4 linked regions of the Homo sapiens genome follow. The protein of the gene in region 3 purifies or fractionates together with the protein of the main gene of each other region. This does not show direct contact. Each region holds a gene or a part of one and is shown on either strand. Other genes may lie near its edges.

Region 1 (7,765 bases), on a different chromosome or scaffold from region 3:
ATAACCTATAAAATCTTTATTAAGAGATTCAGTCATGTTTACTAAACTGGGCAAGCACTAATATTTATAAGGCTTTTCCAATATGGGTTGAAATTAACTCACTCTGGCTAATCCTCAATTAATGAGATTTCAGTTAAAATCTTTCTTACAGTTGGTTAAAATTTTAGGAAAGCGTTTAGGTATAGTCTCAGTCTCACTGGAGTATAACATAACTATTTACTACTTATTGATTATTTCAAAGGCCCTCAATTTGTTTTCTTTTAGAAGGACAGGGATACTTTTGATATAAACCAGTAAACTACTCATTGTAACCAATGCTTTTCCACATTTTTCCCATGTCTTCTATGCCTGAGGAAAAGTCAGGAAGCTATATAGCCTGACGGTTACTGCTACTCCCAACTGTTTCACTCATCTAAACTTAATTTCAAAATACTGACGGGTTCCATTACTATAAATTTTTTTATTCCCATAGACTACTTTTTAATAGTGCTTTACACCTAATGTAACAGAATTTATACTTTAACTTTTAAGTTACATGATAGTAAAAGTCAATTTGGAACAATGGAAAATGCCATGTTTTATTAGAATCATAGTGTTAAAATTAGTCCTCTGACAGTTTAAGTGATGAAAGAAAGGAATTTACATTAATAAAGTAATCTTTTAATGACTGGTTAGTCACTTACATATATTTCTGTTTGCTGAGGTCTAAAGTTCCACTGGAGACTTGCATGCACATCTGCATTAAAGCTAATTTTAATGATTCGATCTTTAACAGGCACCATGTTTTCAATCTTGTCTGAGGCATGACCTGCAACTGCTGATCCTCCAAGTCCAGTAGTCTAGAAAAAGATACCAAATATGTTAAACAATACTTTTAGGTGTTGATGATCTATTTATTTGATAAAAGTTTAAAAACAATGTAGTATTTATAATCCATTTGGAGCCAAGTTTACATATGGTAACTGACCATTGCTGTAACTGTGTCAAGAATCTGACTACTTTTGGGATGTCATGAGCCTGTATTTGTTAAAGTCATTCCTATTTTTCAGCAATCCCTTGGTTACCTGGCATGGTCAAAAATGAGTCTGGGAAAAGCAGGTTCACTAGATAAGTCAACTATTATCACTGATAGTCGAACTCACAATTTCCAGCTTAGCCATTTATAAAAAACACATTTCCCTTTATTGCTAGTATTTCATTAATAGAAATAAAATTTACCCATGACCTTGTAATTCCACTGAAAATACTTAACTCAATTTTTCCATATTCCTGTCTGGTCCTTTTCCATATCACAGCTTTTATAATCCAAATAAGATTGTAGCTTCACTTTTATTAACATTCTGCTTTTCTAAGGTATCACAGGTATTTTCCCACGTTGGTTAATGGTTTTGAATCTTTTCTGTACTTCTCTGTATAGTAGAGCTTTTATATAAATCACTAATCAGAGCACCTAATCCCTATGGCCACAGAAATAATCATAGGGCATCAAGAGTATTTATGTCTGACATTTCTTTTATTCATGACAGTTATTTCCTTGACATCACTTTTAAAAAAAGCCCTTACCCAGCACTTTGGGAAGCCACGGGGGGCGGATCATGAGGTCAGGAGATGGAGACCATCCTGGCTAACACAGTGAACCCCCGTCTCTATTAAAAATAGAAAAAAATTAGCCGGGTGTGGTGACACGCGCCTGTAGTCCCAGGTCTACTCGGGAGGCTGAGGCAGAAGAATTGCTTGAACCCGGGAGGCGGAGGTTGCAGTGAGCCGAGATCACACCACTGCACTCCAGCCTGGGCAACAGAGCAAGACTCCATCTCAAAAGAAAAAAAAAAACGCCCTTACTTCCAAGGTCATCTTTCTTCTGATACTTGAGGTTGCCAGAATTCTGATTTCTGGATAATTTGCCTGTTACTATGCTAGGAAGAAAAAACAAAAAACAAATTTGAGGCTAGGGGAAGACTCCCAGCAAGATACAGTGTTTTAGCATTCTCTGTTTGTTACGCAAGTCAACTAACTTCATTTGACTGCCATGCAACATTACTGAATTACATTATATCCCTAAAAGATGCATCAGAGGGCAAGCCTTTATCCTTGTTTATCCTTCTGCCTGAGTGCTGTGTTTAAGATGTAACTTCTTTTACTAAAAAATTTAAGTCACTTAAATAAAAATACTTTTAAGTGTCCTCCCTCAATAAAGATTCCAATATAGTCTTTGAATATGGGTTCAAATTTCTAAGTTCAATGCCTAAAGTAAAATAGACAAAAAGACTAGAAAACAGCACTAAAAAGATGTCCTGGTCTCTATTCTAGTTGTGCTACTAGCTCTAAGAACCTGATAGATTACAAATTACATTTGGCTTCCTGATCTATGATTGCATGTGGGCACATTTCACACGCAATATTATCAGTTATTTCAGTTTGGGGCAGGGTTTCTCAATCTTAGAACTATGGACATTTTGGGCTGAATAATTTTTTGTTGTTTGGGGGTGAGGCAGTGCTTTGTTGGTTATTTAGTAGCATTCCTAGCCTCTACCTATTAGATGCCAGTAGCACCCTATACCCCCACCTCCATGTTGTGACAACCAAAAATGTCTTCACACATCGCTAAATGTTCCCTGAGGGGCAAAAATCTCCTGGCGGTCTGAGAAGGATCTAGATTTGCTGATTTGGATTCAGTTCTGCTTATGATTTAACCAACTGGTAGTTTTAGAATTCATGCTTGGGCTTGGTCTCTGATGAAAAGTAATTCACATTCTATACTCATCCTCAAAATCAACTATTGCACATTCCCACATAAATGCTGGCATTAGGAGACTATGCCAGAAAAGAAAAGTCCTTTTGTCTTCTGCTTCATCATCTAAAAGAAAGGTAAATTGATTTCCACGGGCATGGTGGCTCACGCCTGTAATCCCAGCACTTTGGGAGGCCAAGGCAGGAGGGTCACTTGAGCCCAGGAGTTGAGACCAGCCTGAGCAACATAGGGAGACCTCGTCTCTACAAATTTAAATAAATAAACGTGCGCGCGCGCGCACACACACACACACACACACACACACACACGGAAAGAGTGAACTCCAGCTAAGAATACCAGTCATGGTGTTAAAAAAACAATTCCCAAACTTTCCTGCACGCTGGAATCACCTAAAACATACTTGACAATTACTGATGCCTGGTTCCCACTGTGGCCTTGTGATAAAATGGGTAATGTGTGTGGATTTTTAGAAGCTGTCCAGGTGATTCCCAATGTTGCTGTACAATGAATTTTGGGAGCCACTATCTTAAACACTTACTGAATCACTTGTGGCATGATTTTTAAACCGAAATTCCTGTCCCTACCCTAGACTTCCTAACCAGAATCTCTGGGGTAGGGGATCCCTGGAACGTGTATTTAACGTTAAGCTCCATAGGTGATCCTAATGGCCAGCCAAAGCTGCAAATTATTAGCTAAGAACAAAGGAGAAATCTCTAAAATACGTGAAACTTGTCTTTGCCTGTGGTTCTCAAAACTTGCCCTCAAAATCAACTACAGGACTTAACTAAAATATAGAGTGCTGGTCCCACTCCCCTTCTTCTCCCCGCCCCACCCCCCCACCCCGTGTTTCTGACTCAGTCCTGGAGTCGGGCCCTAGAATTTGCACTTTTAACAGGTTCCCGGGTGATGCTGATGCTGCCGGTCCTGGGCGCCACACTCCCAGAACCGTTGCAATGTACTTAACAGTTTCCAGGTTAAGTACATTACAGTTATATATTAACAGGGGTGGGGCGAGAGAGCCTCAAAGGCCTAATTCATGCCTCTTTGTACGGAGGAACTGCTAATCCCAGTTTAAGCCCAAGAAACACGAGTAGTCCAATTTCCAGAGTTACCCTTGGCACATAAACCACATGTGGTTTGCAGAGTGAATGTATGAATAATACATTTTAAAAGCGTGTGTGCGCAGGAGGGTAAGGCAGACTGCTAGATACCCGGTTAGAGGCTGCGGACCTTTTTTTTTTTTTTTGGCGAGGTGCAGTTCATAGATCAGGGGTTTCACTCTGCAGCATGGTATAAGCACAATCACTAAGAACTGGATGCTACTTGCAGTTTTGTCACCAATTTCTTTGGTGACTTTGGGTGTTAAGTGACTGTTTTGAACCTCTCTCCTCTTAGGTAGATAATATCGGAAACCTCTTCCACCTACGACCCGCAGAGCGAGGGCTTGTCCCGGGATTTGTCTTGCACCCCCACCTCTCGCGTCTGCGCCACCCTGCGGGCGGCGCCGGCCCCTACCTGGCAATAGAGCCGATAAAGGGGTACGGCAGCGTAGGACGCCCCCAGCATGCCCACGGCGACAGCGGCCACGTAAGTGAGGGTCGTCTTGTTCTGCCGCCGCCGCTCCTCCTCCTGCGCGCGTGTGAAAGGGTTCGAGCTCTTAGGCCGCCGCGGCGGCTGCAATGCTGGATGCCGGGCTCGAAGGCTGCAGCGCTTCCATGTCCCAAGCCACCTCAGTCCTCTCTCGGCACCTCCTGTCCCACTCCACTCTGGCCTAAGAAACGGCTCTACCCTCTCTGCAGCCCTGGTTGGAGACCCAGGGTGGATCCAGCGCCAGCCACAGAAAGGAACGCACCTCCATCCAGGACGCCAGAGCCCTCCCATAACCCTCTGAACTAACACCCACCCGCCTCTCAGGGACGAGAGGTCAAATCTCGCGAGGCGTGCTCCGTCTCGCGAGATCTGGGTTGAGCCTGCCGCTGCCTTGGCTACCAGGCTCCTCAGGTGGCAGCGCTTGCAGTCGGGCTACGGAGGCCGGGTTGCCAGATTACGGGTAAGTTTGCGTTTTGCTTTGTGACTGTTACTCCCACTTCGCTTCTCGCCAGAACGTCTCTTAACATTTAGGAAAATGCGTTTCGCCCGTCCGCGTGCAAGCTTGCCATCACTTGGGGTTGCGCCTGTGATCTTTATTTAAACTCCACCAGCCTTTGTCTCGACCCGGCAGCCCCGGCGACGCTCTCCCGCGGTCTTTTCTCCTGGGGTCCCTTGGCCGCTGGCTCCTGTGCTCACTGCCCTGGACTTAGTTCAAGTATCACCTCTCTCAGGAAGCCTTGCTGTGTTAACCGCAGCCCTCATGGGCACCCACGACACCTGCATTTTCTCAGCCCGTGGGCAGTCGGCTTCCCCTGCTCTGATGCCCCTTACAACTTGCCCAGTGGAAAGCACCACAGCTGGAGCAGGAGGGAGGCTGTCACGCTGAAGTTTGTTCTGGAGAGAGTGACCAGGATAGGAGGGCCATTTAAGGAGAGACTGAAAGAAACGAACCCCGTGGGAGGATGTAATAGCTTTCTTCAGTTGTCCCACAGGACGAACTCGAGGGGGGCAGACAGCATAGCGGATTTTACTGTGTTAGAAGGAAGCATCTTTCTAGAAACTATAAAATAGCAGTTAAGAGCTCAGGTTCTGAGGTTAGGGGGTTCTGGATTTTTACCCGGGTCCTCACCATGGCCCTGTGCCCTTAGGTCAGTTACTTGTCCTCTAAGACCTGGTGTCCTTACTTGTAAAATGGAAATCAGAACAGTAAATGAATAATATTCATATAACGTCTTTCATGATGACTGAGGCATAGTAAGAATGTAGTTAAAAGTTAGGCTGTATTTCTACTTGCTACGTGGCCATTTCTAATGGCCAGAGCAGGTATAATTATCCCCACTATGTGGATGAGGAACTTGGAGGCCTGAGAAATTTTAACTAGTCATTCGACATTTTATTTATTTATTGCCCTCTCAACTGTGGGCCTGACACCAATCGACCTGCTGGCACTATAGCACAGAACAAGTCGGGAGATCACTTCAGTGATGGAGTGTCCTTTCTGCTGAGGGACTCAGAAAATAATCAAGTAACAGTTACCGAAATAAGGGAATTTCAGATAACAATCAGTGCAGTGAAGACAATGTAATAACATAGTATGATTGACAGTCATGAGAAGCGGTAGTAAAGTAAGGACGTTTTGAAGAGGTGACATTTGAGTTTAGATCTGAACGATGATAAGGAGCTACCTACTCAATAACAATTCCAGGCCAAGCAAAGGCCCAGGGGAAGGAAAGAGATAGAATGATTGAAGAACAGAAAGAAGGCCACTGTGTTCCCAACATAGCAGAGTGGAAAGTGGTAGGAAATGGGGTCAGAACAGGTAACAAAGGCCTGGTAATACCAGCCTTTTAAGCCATGTCCAAGGGTTTGGATTTTATTCTAAAAGTAATAGGAAGCTATTGGAATGTTTGACACATACAAGTGATGTGATCTGACTCACATTTTTGAAAAGATATTGATTACTTTGTGGAGAATGGATTAAAGGTAGGGGGAGGAATGGAAGTAGAACAATTAGGAAGCAATTGCAGTAGTCCACATGAGTGATGATGGTCACCTTGAGTGAGTAATTGATTAACTTGTGGTCACAGGGCCAGAAAATTGCAGAACCAATAAAATATAAATACCTTCTGACTTCTTTCTATACTCTGGCATACTGTCTCAAAAATTTCAGGTCTCCATGATTCTACAAATTTATTCATATTGTGTGATGACAGTGTTTGAAAATCTTTTTCATCTGCATGCACCTTGGTTCTTGTACCAGATTCTCAGCTCTTCTAGGATGAGATTTCTCAAAGTTTAATTTTCTTACAGCATAGACTGAAATCCTTGATACCAACAGTACATTTCCACTCACCATTCTGTTTCTCCAGGCACCCCTTCTTTGTAGCTCCAGGTAGCAGTATAAATATATGTCAGTATACAGTCTTTGTCTTGGACTCCAGTATTTCATTTTTTGTATAATAATTGCAAAATGAAACTCTTATGTACAGTGATATTGATAGCAATGAAGTGGTGTTGGTCTTTGTAGCTTTCTACTTTAATAAAAGAAAATATGCATTGTATCTGATCTTAGTATGATAATGTGAAATGACAGTTCATGTTTATGAAATACTTCTGAATGACAACTAAATATTTTGGTTTTTTACTTATATTTTGAATGAAATGTGTAGAACATAATTTAGTTCAATGTCCAATTAACAAACATATTAAACAATTTAAAATATTTCTGCAACATAATAGTACTCAAATTTCTTGTATACCCTTCACCAAGATTAGAGAATGATAAAGATTCTTCAGTCTTTATCTGCATACTTACTTGTTTATTTCCTATTACAAGAACACTTTCTCCTTCCAAACCACAGAGCAGGCATCAAAATCAGTAAGTTAATATTTATCCAGTATTACCATATGTAGTCAGCTTGGACTACCAATAGCAAAATACCACAGACTGGTTGCTTAAACAACAGAAATACTTGTTTCTCAAAGTGCTGAAGGCTGGAAAGTCAAAGATCAATGTATCAACTGATTCACTTCCTGGTGAGGGGTCTCCCTGGCTTGTGACATCTACCATCTTGCTGTGGCCTTACATAGATTGGAGTAAATGAGCTCTTATGTCTCTTATAAGGACACCAATCCCATGAGATCAGGTTCCCACCCTTATGACCTCATTCAACCATAATTACTTCCTAATCCAAATACAGCTACATTGAGGGGTTAGGGCTTCAACATATGGATTTTGGGGGATATATATTAAATTCTTTACATCATGTTATTCATGGACTCTACATAAATTACCCCATTTGTCCCAATCATTTCCATTTTAGATCTAGGATTTAATCCAGGATTACTCGTTGATTTTAGTTGTCATGCCTCTTCAGTCTTCTTCAATCTGGAATAGTTGCCAGTCTTTTCTTGTCTTTTTCT
Region 2 (7,024 bases), on a different chromosome or scaffold from region 3:
TCTAACATTCAGCCAATTTGGAGGGGCAGTAAGTGAGGCTGGATGCTGGAGAAGAGGGGAGAGAGTGATGAGGGAAAAAGTTGCCTAAAGTCTGTCACCCACCCAGTAACCCTGAGGTCTGGGAGTCCTGTCTTGCAAGTGTGTCTGGTTGGCCCATGCCTTGCTCCTGACACTTGGGTCTTGCTGTGTCTGAAAAGTTTGTGGATGGAGACAGTATCTCTGAACCTTTGTGAAACAGTTTTTAACTTTTTAAATGCATATATTAGAAAACTGCTGTTAAAAAGTTACCCTAAGAGAAAATACATCCAAGAGCTTTGATTGCAGATAATATTCAGTTGCATGTCTGAAAACAAGTGAAAGCGTATATTTAACCATAAAGGCTAATTCTCACAAATTAGCTGGGCATGGTGGTAGACATCTGTAGTCCCAGGAGGCTGAGGCAGGAGGATGTCAAGGCTGCGACGAGCTGAGATTGCACCACTGCACTCCAGCCTAGGTGACAGGAGTGAGACCTTGTCTCAAAAAAAGGAAAGATGAATTATCTTCAAGTCACCAGCACTTTTTTTCAGGGGACGTCTGCCCTGCATGTGGGGTGGTGGCTCCCTATCAGGGACGTTTGTCATCTCCCTCAGTGCTCTAGAGGCTTAGGCAGGTAAAGTCAAGTCCCTTTTACGTAAACTTTGCTGTCCAGTGCCAGTCCCTGCTGGATGACACCAACCACGTTGGAATAACTGCAAAGGCCTTCCGCAGTCAGTCACTGTCATTGTCAAAGTCAATTTCAGGCTGCTGTGGTTATTCCTGGGGGTAATCAATAAATCATGTCATCACCTTCACCCTTCACAAAGGGGGGTGGGCGGAGAGAAGGCACTTCATCATCAAGGAAAAAGCATTCCCACTGCCAGAAATAAAGTGGAAAATGCAGCAATCAATCCTGTAATCTGAAGCCTTAAAACTTAAACATCTTCACAAGATGTAAAGTCACGGCTCAGAAGGGGGCCAAAATGCATACCAATACAGATCCCTGCGCTCACTCTCACTCACTGGAGGATGAAAGAGCACCACAGGCTTGCAGCTCATTACAGTACAGAGCACAGCCTTAAATGAATGTTCCTTGCTCACTGCAGGATGCTGGTGTATGAATATGAGTTCGAGATAAAAGTTAAGTGGTCATTGGTACTAAAGATTCAGTAGCACAAAAAGTTTTTTAATGGTATTGGCTGGTGAGGAGTTCCTGTGAGTCAAAGACATTTTTTCTTTATTTCTGTTAGAATAGTAGCACAGGAGATGTAGGATATGGCATGTGGAGAGAAGGGGAGACCAAAAGAGGTGGAAACTTATCCATTGAGTAGCTAGAAGCTCTCTCTGTGATAGAAATGTCACTTGAGGGAGATAGATCATTTCCTATTCCTGAATATATGAACACTGCAGTGAATGCTTGAAAGAAAGAGACTAAGGACCAATGAGAATTTGTGTAATTCATCCCTTCCCTTAAAATATTTCAGGACAAAGAAAAACCATATTCTCTTCCAAGTAATGACTGAAAAAACTGGCGTCCCAGGAATCTTATAAGTCATAGTGCCTTGAGTTGTTTACAGCTGTAGATTTGAATATTAACATCCTTGACTCCCAGAAGGAAATCTTATTTTGGATTGCTCATGACCAAACTATGTATGTATTTAATACTTAACTTTTCCAAATAAGACATTCTGATTAGTGCTCTCACCCTCCCCTCCATAGATGTGGAAAAATCATTACCAAAAAGAAGAGTGATCCACTTGCTTGGGGAGAAAACCACTTGTGTGTCGGCTGCTGTGTCTGATGAGTCTGTGGCTGGAGACAGTGGGGTCTATGAAGCTTTCGTGAAACAGTAAGGATTCAGCAGGGGCGCTTTTAGCTCCAGCGAATCTCCATCGCCGTGGATGTGGGTTATATGCTGTAAATGGACTGCTACCATTAGTCCGCTCTTTGGCTTAGTAAGGACTTTAGCCGTTAAAGAAGTGGTGTGCCTGAAAAGTTCAGTATATCAAAAATGACTTAGCCATGGAAATTATCGATAAACAGATTGGTGTACCCAGAGGCAATTGACCCTCTTTAGAATTTAAAAACCTTGAATTTAGTGGGAATATTGGAAGAATTCACCAGACCCTGTTTGGCACATGAAGCTTCTCACGTGTATTTCTGAAAGTCTGAAATGTCTCAAGGGTGTGGTATATTTCTAGTAATAAGGAAAGTAGTCATCAGAGAGGCTTTGCCCTAAAGCCCAGAGGCGGGCTCTTCTTGAAAAGAGCCTCTGAAACAGTAAGCTTTCGCTGGGATCAGTTCCACTGGGAGGGCATAGGAGTGCTGTTAATTTGGATTTTCATTCAGAATCACTAAGTGGCAAACTGTTAACCATAACAATCGATAACCCCATTAATTAACTGTTCATCTACTCCCTGTCCATATAGACCTAGTGAAATGGAAGATGTCACATACAGTGAAGAGGATGTAGCCATTGTAGAGACCGCCCAGGTTCAGATAGGACTCAGGTAAGGAATGTACGTGGGAAAGGAGCAGTTCTGACATCTGTGCAGGGCAAGTGGCCTGTGGTGATTCCTGACTTCATTTAGCCTCTCTTTTGACAGATACAATGCAAAAAGTTCAAGTTTCATGGTGATTATAGCACAGCTCCGAAACCTTCATGCCTTCTTGATACCTCATACTTCAAAAGTGTAAGTAAAATCAGCGAAGATCAAATTGAGGAACTTAAACATTTCCATGTAAGAGAATTTTACACTGTAATCATACAGTTCATCAAAATGAAGATACGGAAAAGACATAGCAGGGCTGATCATGTCTAAATGAATGGCAGATAAAGATGAGAAGGGAAATGTGAGGAAGACATATTGAGTTTTAATTCTTACTCAACTGATTCTTTCTAAGAGTAGAAGCCAAGACATTTAATCTCTTTTTTGTAACCAGAAGCACTGTTTTATGCTGTGTTGGAATTTGATTGAAATATGGGTAAAATTTTTGTTTTTGTGTAATTGTTACTACTGTTGTTTAAGGAATTTTCTAATCTTTTACATTAAAATGTAGTGATTAAATTTTATGTATCTGTACAACATTGCCAGTCAAACATTTTATCATGCTACATGTAAGAGTATGTTTTTATCATCAAGCATTTACTTCCCTGTGACCAGTGAGTTCTTAAAGTTATTTCACTTCATCAAACCAAGAATCCCAACAAAGTGATGACATAATGCTACACAGTCCATTGCTTAGAGACTTTTTGCTTCCTGACAGATAAGCCTAAAGATCTCATGACAAATAAGTCTGGAAGTCTTAGACACCACCATTCACATTTTCTGACATCAGAGTTTCAGTGACTCTGAAGGGCTCATGGCTGGAAAGTACCAGGAAGAATCCAGACTTCGACTTAGCACTATGACGTAGAATCCGGAATATGCATGTCCACTCTGCATTGAAACTTCCTGTAAGAAGTGGATCTTAATAATATTTTGAATATGCAGTGCAAGGCTTTGGAAATTTAAAAAGAGCTGTTGAGGGGTGATCCCCAAGACTCTATACCCAGCCAGGTGAATGTTTTCCTTAATGATAGAGTATATTCCTTAGTGATAAGACTTTTAATAGAATAAATTAAAGAGTTCTGCATGTTTTTCCTACAGAGTTGCTTGTAAGTTCACCTCCTAACATTCCAATAATCATCAGAAAGAAGAAACTGGATCTAAGAGAAAAAGAACTAGATAGAAATTATGTAGTTGACAATAGAAGAATAGAGATAGTGGCTTTCTTTTTTTTTTTTTAAGAGATGGGGTCTCACTGGGTTGCCCAGGCTGGTCTTGAACTCCCTGGGCTCTCCCACCTTGGTCTCCCAAAGTGCTGGGATTACAGGCGTGAGCCACCGAGCCCAGCCAAGATAGTAGATTTTAATGTGTTGACAAGCATCAAAGCTGGAGGTAGGATAGGATTCCAGGAGGAGGGTGAGCTTAGAGAACTTCCTGAATCAAAGTGTGGACTGTCCACATCATTAGTGAGACCAGTGAGGAGAGCAGGCATCACATAGAAGTGCCTAGATCAACGCAGAGAGCCTGCTTCCCAAATGCGAGATGAAAAACACCAGTCAGCGGTGTCCAGGAAGACTGGCTTGATATAAACTGTGACTTCTCCCTACCAGTAGATAAGCTGTGATGTTGGAGCATGCCATTGGTGGCCTTTTAGTAAAGCAAATCATGGAGAAGACAAGTCTACCAGAGACTGAAACAATAAACAGTGAGAACTAATGCACAACTTCAGGAGAAAACTACAGAACACCCCAAGAACACACACCTTCTTTAAACTCACTGTAAGGGTGCACCTGCAATATGCTCTACTTCAACTAAACCAATCACAGTCATTCTCACTTACCTCATAGGATGTCACCAAGTCCCTTCTGGAGGCATGGTGATACCTGCGTAGTGTAGGACCAGTGAAATACTCAGCCCAACCAATGAGCAGACATTTGCTCTTCGGCTCCCCAGCTAATGTGCAGGCACTTGTTGAGTTGGTGCGAACCTTCCTGACATATATAGCAATCTTTCCTTAAACCCACATGTAAAAGCCTTGGCCTAAATAATGACACTGCTAAACATGACAGCTAGTATGAAATATTCTTAAAATTGTTCTTTTTTTTCCCAACCTCAAAAGTTATTTTTTGATTATTAATTGTGACAAGCAGAAAAGATTTTCTTCTGCTGAATCTTCGGCCTCCCAGGGACAGTGAGCTGTGTCTTAGTAAGGCTCTTTAATCAACAGCAGTGGGCTTCAGGCCCACTAGGTTTTCATTGCTGAATCTCCATAATTAATATTGATATGAAATACAAAATAATATGACATTCCTCAGTTCTGCATTTGAATTACAGTTTTTCTAACGGAGAAAGGCATGTTTTAGAATCTAGATTAGACAAGCCTGGAAATGGGGGTGGAGGGGATAGACTTAGCGGTATTCTCTTCCTGGGATTTAAAGGAAGTTACCTCACGCTCTTTCTAAGAATTGTGGGTCCTCATACAATGTGTGCTCAGAAGAGTCACTTTAAGGTAGTATTAGAAGTTATTGTTTTTCTATAACTCTTCCTCTGAATTTTACAAAGCACGGGACTCTTAAAACAGTTTGTCGTATCTCAGAATTTGGAGATGCTAGACAGTGATATTTTTGAACCGTTGTTTCATCTGTTTTAAATTTTCTTAACAATATGCTACTGAGCCTTTCTTTTTCTCTAGTAGGATAATGTATTCCATTCCTGGGAGGTGATCATCAGCATCTCTTGTTTAATACTCAGGATGAGGATTCTGTGAGATAAAGTCACCAGTATCTACTTAGTGTGTTCCCACCTTCCCAGGCTCAGAAATAACTTATTTTGGAATTGGCTGTCCATGGGGCAGGTGGGACGTTAAATTCGTCTGCCCTACGGATTTTCTTCCTCTTCACTTTCCTATCATGTGCCTTTGCTGCAGTCTCGTGGTGAGTGGAGGCTGGGCCATTGCATGCTCAGGGGCGTAGTCAGCTCGGGTGGGTTAAGGACAGAGCATCTATGCAGCTGAGCACGGACCCGTGATGGCAGCAACACTTTAGATTGATCTTGAACTCCACGATCCCTCATTTTCTCTCTTTGCAGATAATTTCAAATGATAGCTGTGAATCTGGTATAATTAAAGTACCTATGAAATCCATTTTATTCTTGTTCTTTGCAGATATTTTAGGGTTGCCGTTCTTCCTTCCTCAACTGATGTCAGCTGTCTGTTTCGCACAAAAGTTCATCCGCCCACAGAATCCATTTTATTCAATGATGTGTTCAGAGTCGCCATTTCCCAAACAGCCTTACAACAGAAGACACTGAGGGTAGACCTTTGCTCTGTCAGTAAACACCGAAGGGAAGAATGCCTGGTAGGATTCTTCATAATTCCCATTACCAAATAGCACTTAGATTGGGTGGTCTGAGGATATACTTTGTAGTTGCTATTTTGCCAGCCCTAGAAATCACTACAGACCTGCCCAACATCTTGGGATACATCTAGTGTTTGTTCATTTTTTTCTGAAGTAGTGGTTTCTGTTTATTCTCTTATTCCAGACCTTTAAAATCTGCTTATAAATTGTGATTTTCTGTAAAAGTTGCTTTCTATTTCTACCTTTTCACCACAGAAGAACTTTACCTTTGTGACAGCTATCACTCATGGAGTGTGCTTACCACTCCCAGTACCAATGCCAAGCTTTGCGTGACTGCTGTGTATATATTATCTCATTTAATCCTCATGACAACCTGATGAAAGATTGGTTATGAAATGGATGATTATCCACTATTTTCAGATAAGGAGCTGCTTAGAGAGGTAATATATTCAACGGTCATACAACTAGTAAGCGATGAAGCCAGATATCAAAAAGATATCCCCACATAATTACATAATTCACTGTTACAAATTAAAATTAAGCAAGACCACTGAGTACTATATAGTACCCTTATTCACCTCATTCTCCTCCACCACAGTATTGGAGCTTTCGGGAAGATGTGATGTTACTGTTTAAAGCAATATGACATTTAAATGCTACAGCAGAAGACTTCACAGTTAACTAATTGTGAGTTTAATACACTGTTGTGCGTAATAACCAGAAAACCATTATGTCCCAGTAAAGTTACATAAGTATTCAAATGCAGGCATCTAGAGATGTGCCATGTGTTCAGAAAACAATGTGAGTCTCCAATTGAGCTTTTCTCTGCAGTCCAGTGGGAAGCACAGAAACACATGTTTCATGATGAACAAAGTTTAAGAGGGGTAGGTTTCTTCTTAATTTTTCTTCTTGTTTTCTTTACTTGAAAAAAATATCTGATGATATTGTCTGACAATAAAGTTAGAAAGAAGCAGAGCTAACAGACTCGTTAGGCTATCAGAAAGGCTTTAGTATCATAGATGTCATATTTAGTATAATAGATGTCAGAGGCTCCCACAAAGTTCATAAATATTATATTGATAGCCTTAAAGAAGAGTGTAA
Region 3 (7,024 bases):
TCCGCCGCCCAGGTTCAACGACTCTCACGCCTCAGCCTCCCAAGTAGCTGGGACTACAGGTGCATGTCGCCACGCCCAGATAATTTTTTTCTTTTTTTCTTGGAGACGAAGTCTCAATCTGTTGCCCAACCTGAAGTGCAGTGGCACGATCATGGCTCACTGCAACCTCCAAGTCCCAGGTTCAAGTGATTCTCCTGCCTCAGCTCGCGAGTAGCTCGGACTACAGGCATGCGCCACCATGCCTGGCTAATTTTTGTATTTTTAATAGAAATGGCATTTCAATGTGTTGCCCAGGCTGGTCTTGAACTCCTGAGCTCAGTCAATCTGCCTGCCTTGAATAATTTACCTTTTCTAAAAGTTATTCTTGTGAAAGAAGGCATAGAGAACTTTGCAAATATATTAGAACATAGATAGTAAATGGTTACATTTAGTCTTTGATGGTGACCTCTTTCTCTTTCTGATCTTGAACCAACTTCATTTCTCCCTTACTGTTTCTCCAGTTCCAAACTTAGTGATGAGATGGGAGTGCAGACGGGTAGAAGAAGGTTGAGTCAAAGGGGTGGCAGGGACAGCAGCTGCCACGAGCCTCCCTTACAACGTGGCGGGACTGCCGTGTGCCTGGGCCGGCTGTGTGAGTCACCAGCCGTGTCTGCCCAGGCCTCCCCACCTCCTCTGTGTTCTCTGTTTCAGCCCAGGCAGCAGCCGTACATCCTGCCTCCCGTTCACGTCCAGTGTGGTGAGCACTACTCGGAAACGCACACCTCGCAAGGTAACTCTGGCTTGCCGTTCTCCCTTCTTAAGACAAAAAGTTGAATACCAGTAAGCAGTAAAGAAGGCTTTAAAAAAAAGATGACAGGGATGCTTTCTTTTCAACTTTGTCATCGTCTGAATGACAGTAGCTAACAGCTTCAGTTTGTGGAAGGCCTAGACTGTCAGTTACCTCTGATCAAAAAATTTCCCCAGTATTGGCTGCTCAGGGAGTCGGGGCCAAGGCAGCGAGCAAGTCCTTTTCTCCTCCCTTTCCTAAGGGAGCTTAGAGAAGAGAGTATGACAGCTCAGCCCAAGCGAATGCACTTCACCTTCATTGCCAGTATCAGAAAGCTCGTGGCAGTCACTCAGCTTTTCATGGTGACGTAGAACACGGGCATGCAGAATAATTGGAAGAAATAAACAAAGTCAGCCTTTTCTTTTAGCTGTTTTTCTCATCTCTTTCTCCAGCCCCTTTCTTGGTACACTTGCTTTTTTCTTCTCTGAGTAAGGTAAATCTGTTTTATTCCTCTCTTTCTCCCAAAACATCTCCCATGCAAAATGTGTGAAAAAGCTTCTTCTGCTAGTAATGACTCCATGATAACAACTAACATTCATAGAGCAATTGTGGTATTGCTGTAAGTACTTGCTATATATTGTCTTATGTCATCCTTAAAATAAACCTATAGGTACTATTATTATTTCTATTTTACAGTTATAGAAATTGGAATACAGAGAGATTAATGATGGAACTTATATATGAAAATCGGTAACTTGTAATCGTTATGCTAACTGCATTTCAAAAAGAGAGATGGTAGAAAACCGTGGATGTTGGAAATGTAGTAAATGGATAATATAGTTTCTACGTTATCAACTCCTGGCCATTTTGAATCCTCTGCTGTCTGAAAGTGTGAGCATGAAAACCAAGACAATCAAGACTATTTAATTTAATAAAAATAGTACTTTTTATAAGGAGACTGGCAAAGTTACCACATTTCTATGGGAAGGCGCCAAACCCCATGGGAGGTGGATAAATTGCGGCACATTTGTCTCTGTGTTCCCCCTGTTTTTTGTGCCTGTCTCATCTGATCAGATCTCTTTCCACATTCTTCCTCTTCAGACAGTTGAATGTCTTCAGTCACCTTTTCTGTTTTTCACCTTCTCTGATTTTCTGTTTCTCTGTTTTGCTCATGTTTAAATCTGTAGTGTGAAAATGAATATATTTTGGCCACAGAAAGGCAAGAGGTTGCCTTCCTTGGGGTGTGTGTGTGTGTAAGAGAACACCAGACACCTGATTGTAGAAATCAATCAGGTTGGGCCTGATTGTAGAAATCAATCAGGTTGGGCCTGATTGTAGAAATCAATCAGGTTGGGCCTGATTGTAGAAATCTGCTTTTTCTCTCTTTAGGTACCTCTTTAAACTATAATTAATTTTTACTTGAATTGACCTAAGTGATGAAACCAGATCTAGAGGGGATTTGGGGAATTACCAAAAAGAACTCTTGATTCTAATTTTGCCCTTTATTGCTGCTCAGGATGAACTAGCTGTGCGGACACCCTGGCTACATCATTTGTTTTGTGTCTTTAGAATGCCCTGCAGTCCCCTGGGTGAAGGGGCTTTTTCCATTGCCGTCAGGAAGAGCAGCTCTGAGCACTTAGTAATTGAAATCTATTGCCCTATTAAAGTTCTTGACTGTCTTGTCTAAATATTCAGTCCTATTGCCGAGCCCTGCACAAGAGGACAGGCCTCCCCAACTGGAGGGCTGTTGTTGGTGCCTGATTTCAAAGCTTATGGCAAAATTGAGAACTTCCTCAAGCGACACTTACTCCAAATGTGTGCATGCCTTCTTCCATTAGGTTCCCTTTTTCTTTTCAGTATGTCTTAAGGTGTTCTTTCTGTATGTTGGCATTTCATCCAAGATAGTATCTGTTATTCTATAGAACATGTGGGTGGAGACCATGGGATTTCACTTTTTATGATTTGTTTAAATTAAAAGTCACCTCATGAGTATGAGGATGTACTTTGTTGTGGCAGGATGGCTTGGAGGTTCACGTGCCTTTGTTTGACTTCTTGTAGACAGCATTTTTCATGGGAATGAAGAAGCCTTGTATTGCAACTCTCACAACAGCCTGGACTTAAATTATTTAAATGGCACTGTCACCAATGGCAGCGTGTGTAGCGTTCACAGCGTCAACTCCCTCAACTGCTCGCAAAGTTTCATCCAGGCCTCCCCTGTATCCTCCAACCTCAGTATCCCTGGGAGTGACATCATGCGGGCCGACTACATCCCGAGCCACCGGCACAGCGCGATCATCGTGCCCTCGTACAGGCCAACCCCCGATTATGAGACAGTCATGCGCCAGATGAAGAGGGGGATCCTGCATACAGACAGCCAGAGCCAGTCTCTGAGAAACCTCAACATTATCAACACCCATGCCTACAACCAGCCAGAGGATCTGGTGTACAGCCAACCGGAGATGCGGGAGAGGCACCCCTACACTGTCCCTTATGGGCCACAGGGGGTCTACAGCAACAAACTTGTCAGTCCATCTGACCAGAGGAACCCAAAGAATAATGTGGTACCAAGCAAGCCGGGGGCAAGCGCCATCTCGCACACGGTGAGCACCCCAGAGCTGGCCAACATGCAGCTGCAGGGCAGCCATAACTACAGCACGGCCCACATGCTTAAGAACTATCTCTTCAGGCCACCGCCCCCCTACCCACGGCCACGACCTGCCACCAGCACCCCAGACCTGGCCAGCCACCGCCACAAGTACGTCAGCGGCAGCAGCCCGGACCTGGTGACCCGGAAGGTGCAGCTCTCGGTGAAGACCTTCCAAGAGGACAGCTCTCCGGTGGTTCATCAGTCTCTCCAGGAGGTGAGCGAGCCCCTCACGGCCACCAAGCACCACGGCACTGTGAACAAGCGCCACAGCCTGGAGGTGATGAACAGCATGGTGCGGGGCATGGAGGCCATGACGCTCAAGTCGCTCCACCTCCCCATGGCTCGCCGCAACACGCTCCGGGAGCAGGGACCGCCCGAGGAGGGGTCAGGCAGCCACGAGGTCCCCCAGCTCCCTCAGTATCACCACAAGAAGACCTTCTCTGATGCCACTATGCTAATCCACAGCAGCGAGAGTGAGGAGGAGGAGGAGGAGGCTCCAGAATCGGTGCCCCAGATCCCCATGCTCCGGGAGAAGATGGAGTACAGTGCCCAGCTGCAGGCGGCCCTGGCCCGCATCCCCAACAAGCCCCCGCCTGAGTACCCCGGTCCAAGGAAGAGTGTGAGCAATGGGGCTCTGAGGCAGGACCAAGCCAGCCTTCCTCCCGCCATGGCCAGAGCCAGGGTGCTGAGGCATGGGCCAGCCAAGGCCATCAGCATGTCTCGGACTGACCCGCCGGCTGTCAACGGGGCCTCTCTCGGCCCATCCATCTCGGAACCCGACCTGACTAGTGTGAAGGAGCGGGTCAAAAAAGAGCCTGTGAAGGAGAGACCTGTGTCTGAAATGTTTTCCCTGGAAGACAGCATTATAGAGAGAGAGATGATGATCAGGGTGAGTGTCCTCCTCTCCCAGGGCATTTTCCAGTGTGAAAGCACATGCTTCAGGCACTGAGCAAGGGGCAGGGCTTATGCAGGGAACGTGGTAGGTTTTTAAGGAATCATTGAGCATTTAAAAGGTAGTACTTTATTACACAAAATGTTGAGTTTTTGCCCTTTCAGATAAATCTTCCATTCTCATTTGTGGCTTCTAACAGGTGTACTTGGTACGTTATTGAGGCCAGTGCCTCAGCCAGCATTTTGCTGTTTATTCAAAGCTCAGACTTCCAATTGGGTAAGCTGGTATTGGGGAAGTTCACCTTGCTGTGTCTTTTAGTGTTTTGTTTTCTTGAAGGAAAGCTGTCCCCCACATCCAGTTAGGTATTAAAGAGCAACATCCCTATACCGCCTTCTGTATAGATCCGTAAGTCAAGACTCACCAGTATTGTCTGGACTGTGATATGTCTAGCTTTGTATTCAGATTTTCTTTCAATAGATGTTTCACACAGATTCAAGAAAATTATAGTAATTGGATATATAACTTAGTAATTGGATAAATAATTCTCCATTGAACTTATTCTGTCAAAAATTCACACACATACGTGAATACACACATACATATATACATACATATTACCACTTGAAGATCCATCCTAGTACTAGACATGAATAGCTCTTCTTCATAATATGTACAGAGCCAGGTATGGTGGGGGACACCTGTAGTCCCAGCTACTTGGGAGGCTGAGGTAGGAAGAGCACTAGAAGCCAGGAGTATGAAGCCAGCCTGGGCAGTATAATGAGATCTTATCTCTAAAATAAAATAATAATAAAAAAAGAACCAGCCAGACATGATGGCAGGAGCCTGTAGTCCTAGCTAATCAGGAGGCTGAGGTGGGAGGATCGCTTGAGCCCAGGAATTCAAGGCTTTAGTGACCTATGATTTTGCCACTGCACTCCAGCCTGGATGACAGGACTAAACCTCATCGCTTTAAAAAAATATATTGTACAATTTGGGGAGACAGTTAAGTTGTCAGAACAGGACTATGCAGGCACATATAGAACAACGAAGTGAATCTGCTCTTACTAATGAGAAAATGTTTGGATTATAGCTACTTTAAAAAATCTCGACTGGGCACTGTGGCTCACGCCTGTAATCCCAGCACTTTGGGAGGCCGAGGTGGGCAGATCACAAGGTCAGGAGTTCAAGACCAGCCTGACCAACATGGTGAAACCCCATCAGTACTAAAAATACAAAAATTAGCCGTGTGTGGTGGCGTGCACCTGTAATCCCAGTTACTCAGGAGGGAGGCAGGAGAATCACTTGAACCCACAAGGCGGAGGTTGCTGTGAGCCGAGATGGCACCACTGCACTCCAGCCTGGATGACAGAGCAAGACCCCGTCTCAGAAAAACAAAAAAAAATCTCCATTGCTGCTTGCCATGAACATTTTCACTCCTTTAAAAAAAACCTATTAACTAGAACTAATCAAAGCCAGATTGACTTCTCTTCATTCACCATGGCTGCACCATAAGGTAGCCAAGCCTAATTTTAGGAACTCCGAAACAGTTGTAACTTAAAATTTGCTTTGATGGATTCCATTAGGCCACCTTCATTTCCAGGTCTTCCTAACCCATCACTGGGATTCAACCTGAAAAGAACAATCAAGGCCCAAAGTTTTAAGGAAGCCAAGTTCCTGGGGTCAGAAATTGAATCTGTAGCAACCTTGTTACTTTTGGAAAACCTTAAGAACATTCTCAACCTCACAGTTCTGGCCAGCCCCACTAGAGTAGTGCTAAGAGATTTTTATACAGATATGACTTTTTGCAAACCTAGAAGGAAATTGTGCAAGGTGTACCTTTGCCTCTAGCAAAGAAAACCTTTGGCTTGGAATGGAAGAAATGGGTAGGTGCTGTTGGGAGAGAGCTTTCCCAGCATGGAATAAAGCAATTTATTGGTAGAAAATGATTTTTCAATACTTCTTCCAGACCACTTAAAAGCAACATTAGCATCAAGAACCTATCAGTCTAAGCATTTAATTTAGCTATTTCCCCTGCCAACTTGATACTTAATGATGTCCACATGGTCCCATAACCTCATTTTGGTTGTATTCATCCTCTTCTCTTGTTACTCGTATTAAACAAATAGCCTGTAGCCAAAATCTTGGCATGGGTCTCCTCCTTAGAGCTCCTTGCATTATCACAAAGGAACAAGGAGATTTTCACTATTGTTTTTTCTCCAGATGCTTTTCCATTCCATTCATGTGGGTAATAATGACTAGCAAATTTTAGCCATTAACCTTTAGTTCAAGAAAATAATTACCCCATTTCTACTTCATTTTCCCTGTTGATTTTTTTTTCCCCCAAATCTGCTACACTCAGGAGCTCAAGGACACCGGCAGACCTTAGAGTTGGATTAGGAGCTGCTTCAGTGAGCCAGGAGGCCAGGCAAGGTGGTGACAATGCCAGTGGCTTTGAGCCCAAGATGAGTCTCCATCTGTTTTGTTTTTAATGCAAAAACTCACCCCATAGCCTAAGCAACATCCCCACAGGTCAGATACTTCTCTGCTCTCCTCACTATGGGCAGCTTTTGCCAGCTTGATGGGAATTCATGAGAGGTGATGGCCATTCTAAGGGCCCTCTTGATCAGAACACAATGAGAAACTTTTAGCAAAAGAAAACTCAGGGGCTGGCGGGGTGTGCAGGTATGGTGAGAATTTGCCCTCTGGGCAGCTCTCCTGG
Region 4 (7,024 bases), on a different chromosome or scaffold from region 3:
TATTTGTTTTTGTTTTTTGGAGACAGAGTCTCGCTCTGTCGCCCAGGCTGGAGTCCAGTGGTGCGATCTTGGCTCACTGCAAGTCTGCCTCCTGGGTTCAAGCGATTCTCCTGCCTCAACCTCCCGAGTAGCTGGGACTACAGGTGCACGCCACCACATCCAGCCAATTTTTTGTATTTTAGTAGAGATGGGGTTTCACTGTGTTGCCCAGGCTAGTCTTGAACTCCTGAGCTCAGGCAATCCGCCCACCTCAGCCTCCCAAAGTGCTAGGATTACAGGCGTGAGCCACCACGCTTGGCCTTGGGTCACTGGTTTATAAACTTCATCTCTGTACCTCCTTGTCATCCCACCTGGACTGGGGTGGTATTGGGCCCCTGAACTTGGGGTCCTGAGGGGGTCTCATGTCAACTCTGGGGGTCACTATTGTGGTCCAGCTTTGTATGTTTTGGAAAAGTGCTAATTGGAGGATAGCCACTTGTGGTTTTCTGGAATTTCCCTCCGGCATACCCCATTTTTGCCTTTTAGTTCTGTCTGTGTGGCCTTGGGCAAATCACTTGACCTCTCTGAGGTTTGAGTGCTTGAGAAGTGGGTTGGTTAGATGGTCTTCAAGGGCCTGCCAGCTCTTAAATATTATTTCAAACCCTTCTGCCGCTCTTACCTCTCCAGACTCCATGAGAGGAGAAGGGGGAACAGGGATGGGCTATGAGAAAAAGGAAGAAGAAATTTAACAAAGCTGAAAAGAGCCAAACTTATTCCGGGGGGTGGTGGGTTGGGGAGAAAAAATTCTGCCAAGGTAGTTATATCCCTGCAATTAATTAATGCTGTGAGACAAAAAATTGCACTAAAAATTTCTACTCCGTGTGTGTGTGTGTGTGTGTGTGTGTGTGTGTGTGTTTATTTGCCTTGGATTTTTCCTTACCTGAATCATGGAGATGCCCACCCATTCCCCTGAATTTAAAAGAAGTAAGTCAAATGGTCCTTCAGTCAGAAAAGTGATTTCTTAGCCACCAAGGACAAAATAGCGTCTCTGGTTACCAACCCTAAAGAATGTCTTGGCACATTCCTCCCTCTGGGGCTGAGCTGTTTTGTGTGCTGGCCGGCCAGGAGCTGCTGGGGGTAGGGAATCCAGTTTTCAGCTTCCCCTTTCACCAGGGGGTTGGAAGAGCAGCCAAGCAGCCAGCCTTGCCAACTCTCTCCCCTTCTCACCCAGGGGAAGACTGGGAGGCCGAAATTCCTGAGGATGGTTGTCCCAACAACCGGAGAGGGTCCAGTGGGCAGCTTGGGTCCTGCCCACTGGGCCAAAGGCTCCAGCAGCACCACAGGCTTTTCCTGAGTCAAGGCCAGCCTGGGAAGGTGACAGGCCCTTCGGGAATCAGGTGCTGTGGATCAGGTCTGAACAGCACCTTGGAGCCGTGCTCCTTTTGCGGAGTAACTCTGGGTGCTTTTGTGAGCTCTAGCGAAGGGGCCAGCGTCCTGTGTATTTCACTTCGTGGTATGCAAAACAAATGCACCGATTGTTCTCGGAGGAAGAATAGATCTTTGGGGCTGGCCCTCCCAGAGAAGGTTCCTGCAGCCTGATTCCTTCTTGTTGTGCGATTTGTATTCAGACCTTCTCATAGGAACCACCTGGGAATTCTGGGCAGTTTCTGGGTCTGTATGGTAAGTACCGGAGGCACACATGGCTGGAGAGGCCATGCTGAGAGGATCCAGCAACTTCTCCCATGACTTGAGGATCTTTTGCTAACCCTGTTATTTCAGAAATAATTGATATGGTAGGAAGTCAGGTCTACAGCAGTCAAAAAGTCTAAACCTCTGTCAGGTCACAGACCCTTATGAGACTGATAAAGGTTCAGAACTCTTCCTAGAGAAAAGGTTTTTGCACATAATTTCAGGGACCTCCTGGACCCCAGGTTCATAACCCCTGCCATAGATAAGCTTGGAAATTGCTTGTCACCATGGAAAGGCCTCCTGTTTAGCTAGGTAGCAAATAATGATTGGGTATTTACTATATTCAGGCAGTCTGCTGAGAGCTTTACATAGGTTATCTCTTTAAATCCTCCTAACAACCCTGGGACTAGGTACAATTATTACCCACCTGAACTACCCAATGCTCAGGGAGGCTTGGTAAAGCCCCTCAACCTTTGTGGAGCTGTGATGTGAATACTAGGCGGGCTCACACCAGAACACACATTTCTAACCACTGCCTCATTTTACTTCCTGCTGAGTTAGCTGCAGAATCAAGACCACTGCTCCAGTGCCTAAGGAATTTGGCCTTGGGAAATGGAGCCAAAACAGGCATGATTTCACTTACCTGTGACCATTCTGGTGTGGTCAGGTCATGGGCACCTAGAGGGCAAATGTAGATAAGTGAGTCTTTGGCTCCTGGAATCTTGGATCTGCCACTTGCTACCTGAGTTACCTTGGTAATTGACATATTGTCCCTGAACCTTGCGTTTGCCTTCTAATGAATGGAAAGATGTCCATCAACCATCAAGGGTAGTTATGGGTGATAAGTAAGTGAAGGTAGGTAGGGCAGCAAGCCTGAAGTCTGACATGCAGGGGACACTGAGGAATGCCAGTTCCTTTAACTTTTCCTAGAACGTACCTGTGAAACAGCAGCATCAAATGGATGCTGCATATCTACCCAATTTTGCAGCTGGAGTGGACCTTTCTGTTCGTGAAATCCAGGCCTCTCATTTCACTGATGAAATTGAGAACCAGCCTGGTGCGGTGGCTCATGCCTATAATCCCAGCACTTTGGGAGGCTGAGGCGGGCAGATCACCTGAGGTCAGGAGTTCGAGACCAGCCTGACCAATATGGAGAAACCCCATCTCTACTAAAAGTACAAAATTAGCCAGGCATGGCGGTGCATGCCTGTAATCCCGGCTACTCGGGAGGCTGAGGCAGGAGAATCGCTTGAATCCGGGAGGTGGAGGTTGTGGTGAGCCAAGATCGCGCCATTGCACTCCATCCTGGGCAACAAGAGCGAAACTCCATCTCAAAAAAAAAAAAAAAAAAAAAGAAATTGAGAACCAGAGACAAGTGACTTGCCCAAGGTCACACAGAAAATAAATGCCAACCTCGAGTCTAGTAAAAGTTTCTTTTTTCTCTTTCTCTTATATAAATTTTTTACTAAAAGTCAGATCTATGTCCTTCTCATCAATGATAATAATTCACACATATTTTATGTGCATGGCTGCATTATTCTCCATAATCGTTTTTGATTGTATAGACCAGGAAGTTGCATTCATCGTGCGTCACAATCATTTGTGAGTTGTGTCATAGGAATTTGCTGTATGTCAAATGATTACATTTCCAGTGATTGCAAGTGAATTCCTATTTTTATAATCAATTAAAATGGATTTAGAGTTATTGTCAGTCTAATGTCATATTCCAACAAGCTTTGTTTTATTTTATTTTATTTTATTTTGAGACTGAGTCTTGCTCAGTCACCCAGGTTGGAGTGCGGTGGTGCAATCTCAGCTCATTGCAACCTCTACTTCCCGGGTTCAAGCAATTCTCGTGCCTCAGCCTCCCGAGTAGCTGGGATTACAGGTGCATGCCACCTCACCCAGCTAATTTTTGTATTTTTAGTAGAGACAGGGATTCACCATGTTGGCCAGGCTGGTCTCGAACTCCTGACCTCAAGTTATCCGCCTGCCTCAGCCTCCCAAAGTGTTAGGATTACAGGTGTGAGCCACTGTGCCCCACCCAACAAGGTTTCTTAAGTGAGAGTTATAACCAGTCTGCCAGGGAAGTTACCCAGAACCTCTTTATTCTCCATGCTGCTGCTCTTAATGATCCACTAATACCTGTAGATGTATAATAATAATACTTACATACAAGTGATTAGAGGGCTTTTTATCTTTTTCTGAGGCTTGAGTTTAAGATCTACGTATTCCATGGGAGTCTACCATGCCTGGGAACATCCTATGTCAATTATTAAGAAAGAAATGAGGTTTAAAAACACTAGGATAGATAATAGGGAGAAGCAAGAGATTTGGTAACCCAGAGAAGAATAAAATAATAGTCAATACCAGCATCTATTGAGTGTTTACTCTCTGCTGCCCACTGAGCTAAGCATTCTATTTTGTGACCTCATTTTATCTTTTCAACAGCCATATGGGGTAAGTACTTCAGATGAGGGAACTGAAATTTAGAAAGGTTAAGTAACCGGCCGGGCGCAGTGGCTCACTCCTGTAATTTCAGCACTTTGGGAGGTCGAGGTGGGTGGATCACCTGAGGTCAGGAGTTCAAGACCAGCCTGGCCAACATGGTGAAACCACGTCTCTACTAAAAATGCAAAATATTAGCCAGGTGTGGTGGCACGCACCTGTAATCCCAGCTACTCAGGAGGCTGAGACAGGAGAATCGCTTGAACCCAGGAGGCGGAGGTTGCAGTGAGCTGAGATCGCGCCTCTGCACTCTAGCCTGGGCAACAAGGGCGAAACGCCATCTCAAAAAAAAAGGTTTAGTAACTTGCTCAAGATCACCAACAGGTGTTGCATCCAGGACTGGAGCCCACCTAGCTGGATTCTTGCATCTACACTCATACTAGCTGTAGCCTGGTCTGGCTCTGTCCTGGCTTATTAATCCATCTCAGGGCCCCAGAGTGCCCTGTTGACAGCTGGGCTTGAGAGTTACCATTTATTCTTAAAATGGGTGAACCTGATGTGGATCTCAGGGAGAGACTTTGCTAAGGAGCCTTAACCAGAGAAGCCAGTGAGATCCTCATGGCAGCTTAGGAGACTGTTTGGCATAAACTCCACCTTCTGGGAGCAGCTGGCTAACCAGAGCTTTGGGGATGGGAGAAGAGAGAGAGATGGAGGCAGAGGGACTCTTTGAAGGATGCAGTGTGTACAAGGAGTTCACAGTCCTTTCCAAGTCGCTTGGGTAAATGCTCCCAACAGCCAGGGAATGAGTAGCCAAGGCCGTTCCTCTCTGTCGCCATCCCTCCCCCTCCCGGGGAGAGGGCTTATCCAAACTGACCCAATTTTCCAATTCCCTGGGGTCCCAGATTGCTGTGAGAAGAACACTGCCCTTTTGAAGGGAAGAGAATCAGGTTGCCTTAGTTACCTGGAAGGTTGGCACGCCAAGTTCAGGTGCACGTAAGGAGAAACAGGGCTAGAATAAGTGTGAGTCGAAGGTGGCCACCGTCTTGCTGCACGGTTCCCTCAGTGGCAGAAGCCTTGATCAGGCTTCAGTGGCACTTGCAGGGAATGCCGACCTAATGTCAGGTGGCTGTCCATGACGTGTATCAGGAGCTCTCTCCAGCCACATGTGGTGCTAGGTGATGAGGCTCTGCAGCCTCCAGTTCAGCAAGGGGCCCTGGATAAGAGGAATCCACTTCACTTGGAGAAGTGGCCTGGTGACATCCCTATCACCAGCTCCTCGCTATTTGCTAAGGGAAGCACCTCCACTTGGACAGGGCTGAGGGCTAGATCTGGGCAAAAAACTCCCGTCTTGCCTCTCCCAGCATGGAGATGGCCAGCTGGCTGCACACCTTTAGGTAGAACAGCAAAGGTTCAGTTGCTGCTGCCTCGAATCCGTTTCAGAGTGAGATAAAGAAAGAGAAAACTAAGAAACTGGATACAGTGACATTTTGTTATTAGACCTTCCCCAGCAGGCCATTTAGCCTTTAGTTCCTGAGCAGAAAAATAATAATGGGGTGGCGGGAGGAGGGGGCAGGCGTTCACTGTTGTGTGCGGAGAATATTCTCTAAAGATGCAGGATGGGGAAGAGGGGGTGGAGCAGAGAGTGGGGAGGAGGGAAAGAAAAAGGACAAGTGTGGTGGGTCACATGCCCATTCTCCCCACCCCCCACCCCTTGCCAGTTGCCTGCTCAATGCTTCTACCCATGACATCTCACTGTTGGGAAGAAATGAGATCTTTCAGTTTCAAATGTCTGCCAAAGAAAAGGGACGGAGGCTTAAGTTCTCACTCAATGGTCAGCCAGAAAAAAAAAAAAAAATGAAGCTGCATCAAGATTAGGGACACCTTTGTTGGCTTTTTTTTTCTTCTCTTGCTCCATTCATCACTCTCTGGCAGCGAGGACACCAGGCCAACTGCAGCTGCTGACTTTCCCCAGTCGGCTGCCTGCTGTTGCCCAGGCCTGTTTTGGTAGCAACCCCCACACTGGCTTCCTCCCCGCCCAGTGGTGGTTACTTGTTGGATTCGTCCCTGGGGTAGCCCCTGGGATCCACTGACGGGTAACAGACTTGGAAGGATAAAATGTCAAGATGCAGGCATCAGGTGGCTGCTAGGATGAGATGACCCTGGGACAGCCTTCCAGTCCTACATCTGTCGTGGCTTTTCTTGGAGAGTCGGGCTGTGAGCATTTCACTGTATTCCAGGAATTTCTTCTAAGTGCATTGTTTGTCTTTGTATCACTAACAGTGAGAACAATAACTGGCACCTGGTGATAATGGTGATAAATAATCATGATTGTCTTTAAAGATCCTTATCCATTGTCTGTCACGTGCCAAACACTATTGCTCATCATATTTTTATGGCATTTTGCAAATGAGGAAACTGAGGCCGAGAGACAAGTCAAGTGACAAGCTCATTTTTCCACTATGGAAAAAAATGTGTATGTGTTTGTTGTTCCACCCAAACATGGGATTGCATACCACACGATTCACGATTCCCTGTAGTAGATAAGCTCTCCATAAAGATCATTAGAGGACACTGAGTCAAGTCTGGCTTTGTCACTTTAAAATAGTAAGTGGGACTGGGTGCAGTGGCTGACACCTGTAATTCCAGCACTTTGGGAGGCCAAGGTGGGTGGATCACCTGAGGTCAGAAGTTCAAGACCACCCTGGTCAACATGGTGAAACACCATCTCTACTAAATATACAAAAAAATTAGCCAGGCGTGGTAGCAGGCGCCTGTAATCCCAGCTACTCGGGAGGCTGAGGCAGGAGAGTCGCTTGAACCTGGGAGACGGAGGTTGCAGTGAGTCGAGATTGTGCTATTGCACTCCAGCCTGGGCAACAAGAGCAAAACTTCGTCTCAAAAAAAAAAA

The links.
Region 1: the proteins of PTPN14 (region 3) and STXBP4 purify together in Homo sapiens (affinity purification with mass spectrometry; 4 studies listed by BioGRID and IntAct, with this or other methods). This does not show direct contact.
Region 2: the proteins of PTPN14 (region 3) and WWC2 purify together in Homo sapiens (affinity purification with mass spectrometry, with the first as the bait; 3 studies listed by BioGRID). This does not show direct contact.
Region 4: the proteins of PTPN14 (region 3) and WWC1 purify together in Homo sapiens (affinity purification with mass spectrometry; 8 studies listed by BioGRID and IntAct, with this or other methods). This does not show direct contact.

What each region holds. Positions count from the first base shown.
Region 1 is NC_000017.11:54,964,014-54,971,778, forward strand, and holds the start of STXBP4 (syntaxin-binding protein 4), read left to right. Parts: upstream 1-4,751; 5' UTR 4,752-4,802; intron 4,803-7,765. Other genes in the region: COX11 (cytochrome c oxidase assembly protein COX11, mitochondrial), read right to left, coding at 684-839, 4,268-4,633. UniProt on the Homo sapiens protein: Plays a role in the translocation of transport vesicles from the cytoplasm to the plasma membrane. Inhibits the translocation of SLC2A4 from intracellular vesicles to the plasma membrane by STX4A binding and preventing the interaction between STX4A and VAMP2.
Region 2 is NC_000004.12:183,263,241-183,270,264, forward strand, and holds part of WWC2 (protein WWC2), read left to right. Parts: intron 1-1,737; coding exon 1,738-1,867; intron 1,868-2,447; coding exon 2,448-2,528; intron 2,529-2,624; coding exon 2,625-2,711; intron 2,712-5,730; coding exon 5,731-5,923; intron 5,924-6,754; coding exon of another isoform or gene 6,755-6,802; exon of another isoform or gene 6,803-6,807; intron 6,808-7,024. UniProt on the Homo sapiens protein: Regulator of the Hippo signaling pathway, also known as the Salvador-Warts-Hippo (SWH) pathway.
Region 3 is NC_000001.11:214,380,589-214,387,612, reverse strand, and holds part of PTPN14 (tyrosine-protein phosphatase non-receptor type 14), read left to right. Parts: intron 1-690; coding exon 691-769; intron 770-2,824; coding exon 2,825-4,302; intron 4,303-7,024. UniProt on the Homo sapiens protein: Protein tyrosine phosphatase which may play a role in the regulation of lymphangiogenesis, cell-cell adhesion, cell-matrix adhesion, cell migration, cell growth and also regulates TGF-beta gene expression, thereby modulating epithelial-mesenchymal transition.
Region 4 is NC_000005.10:168,294,626-168,301,649, forward strand, and holds part of WWC1 (protein KIBRA), read left to right. Parts: exon of another isoform or gene 1-1,659; intron 1,660-7,024. UniProt on the Homo sapiens protein: Regulator of the Hippo signaling pathway, also known as the Salvador-Warts-Hippo (SWH) pathway.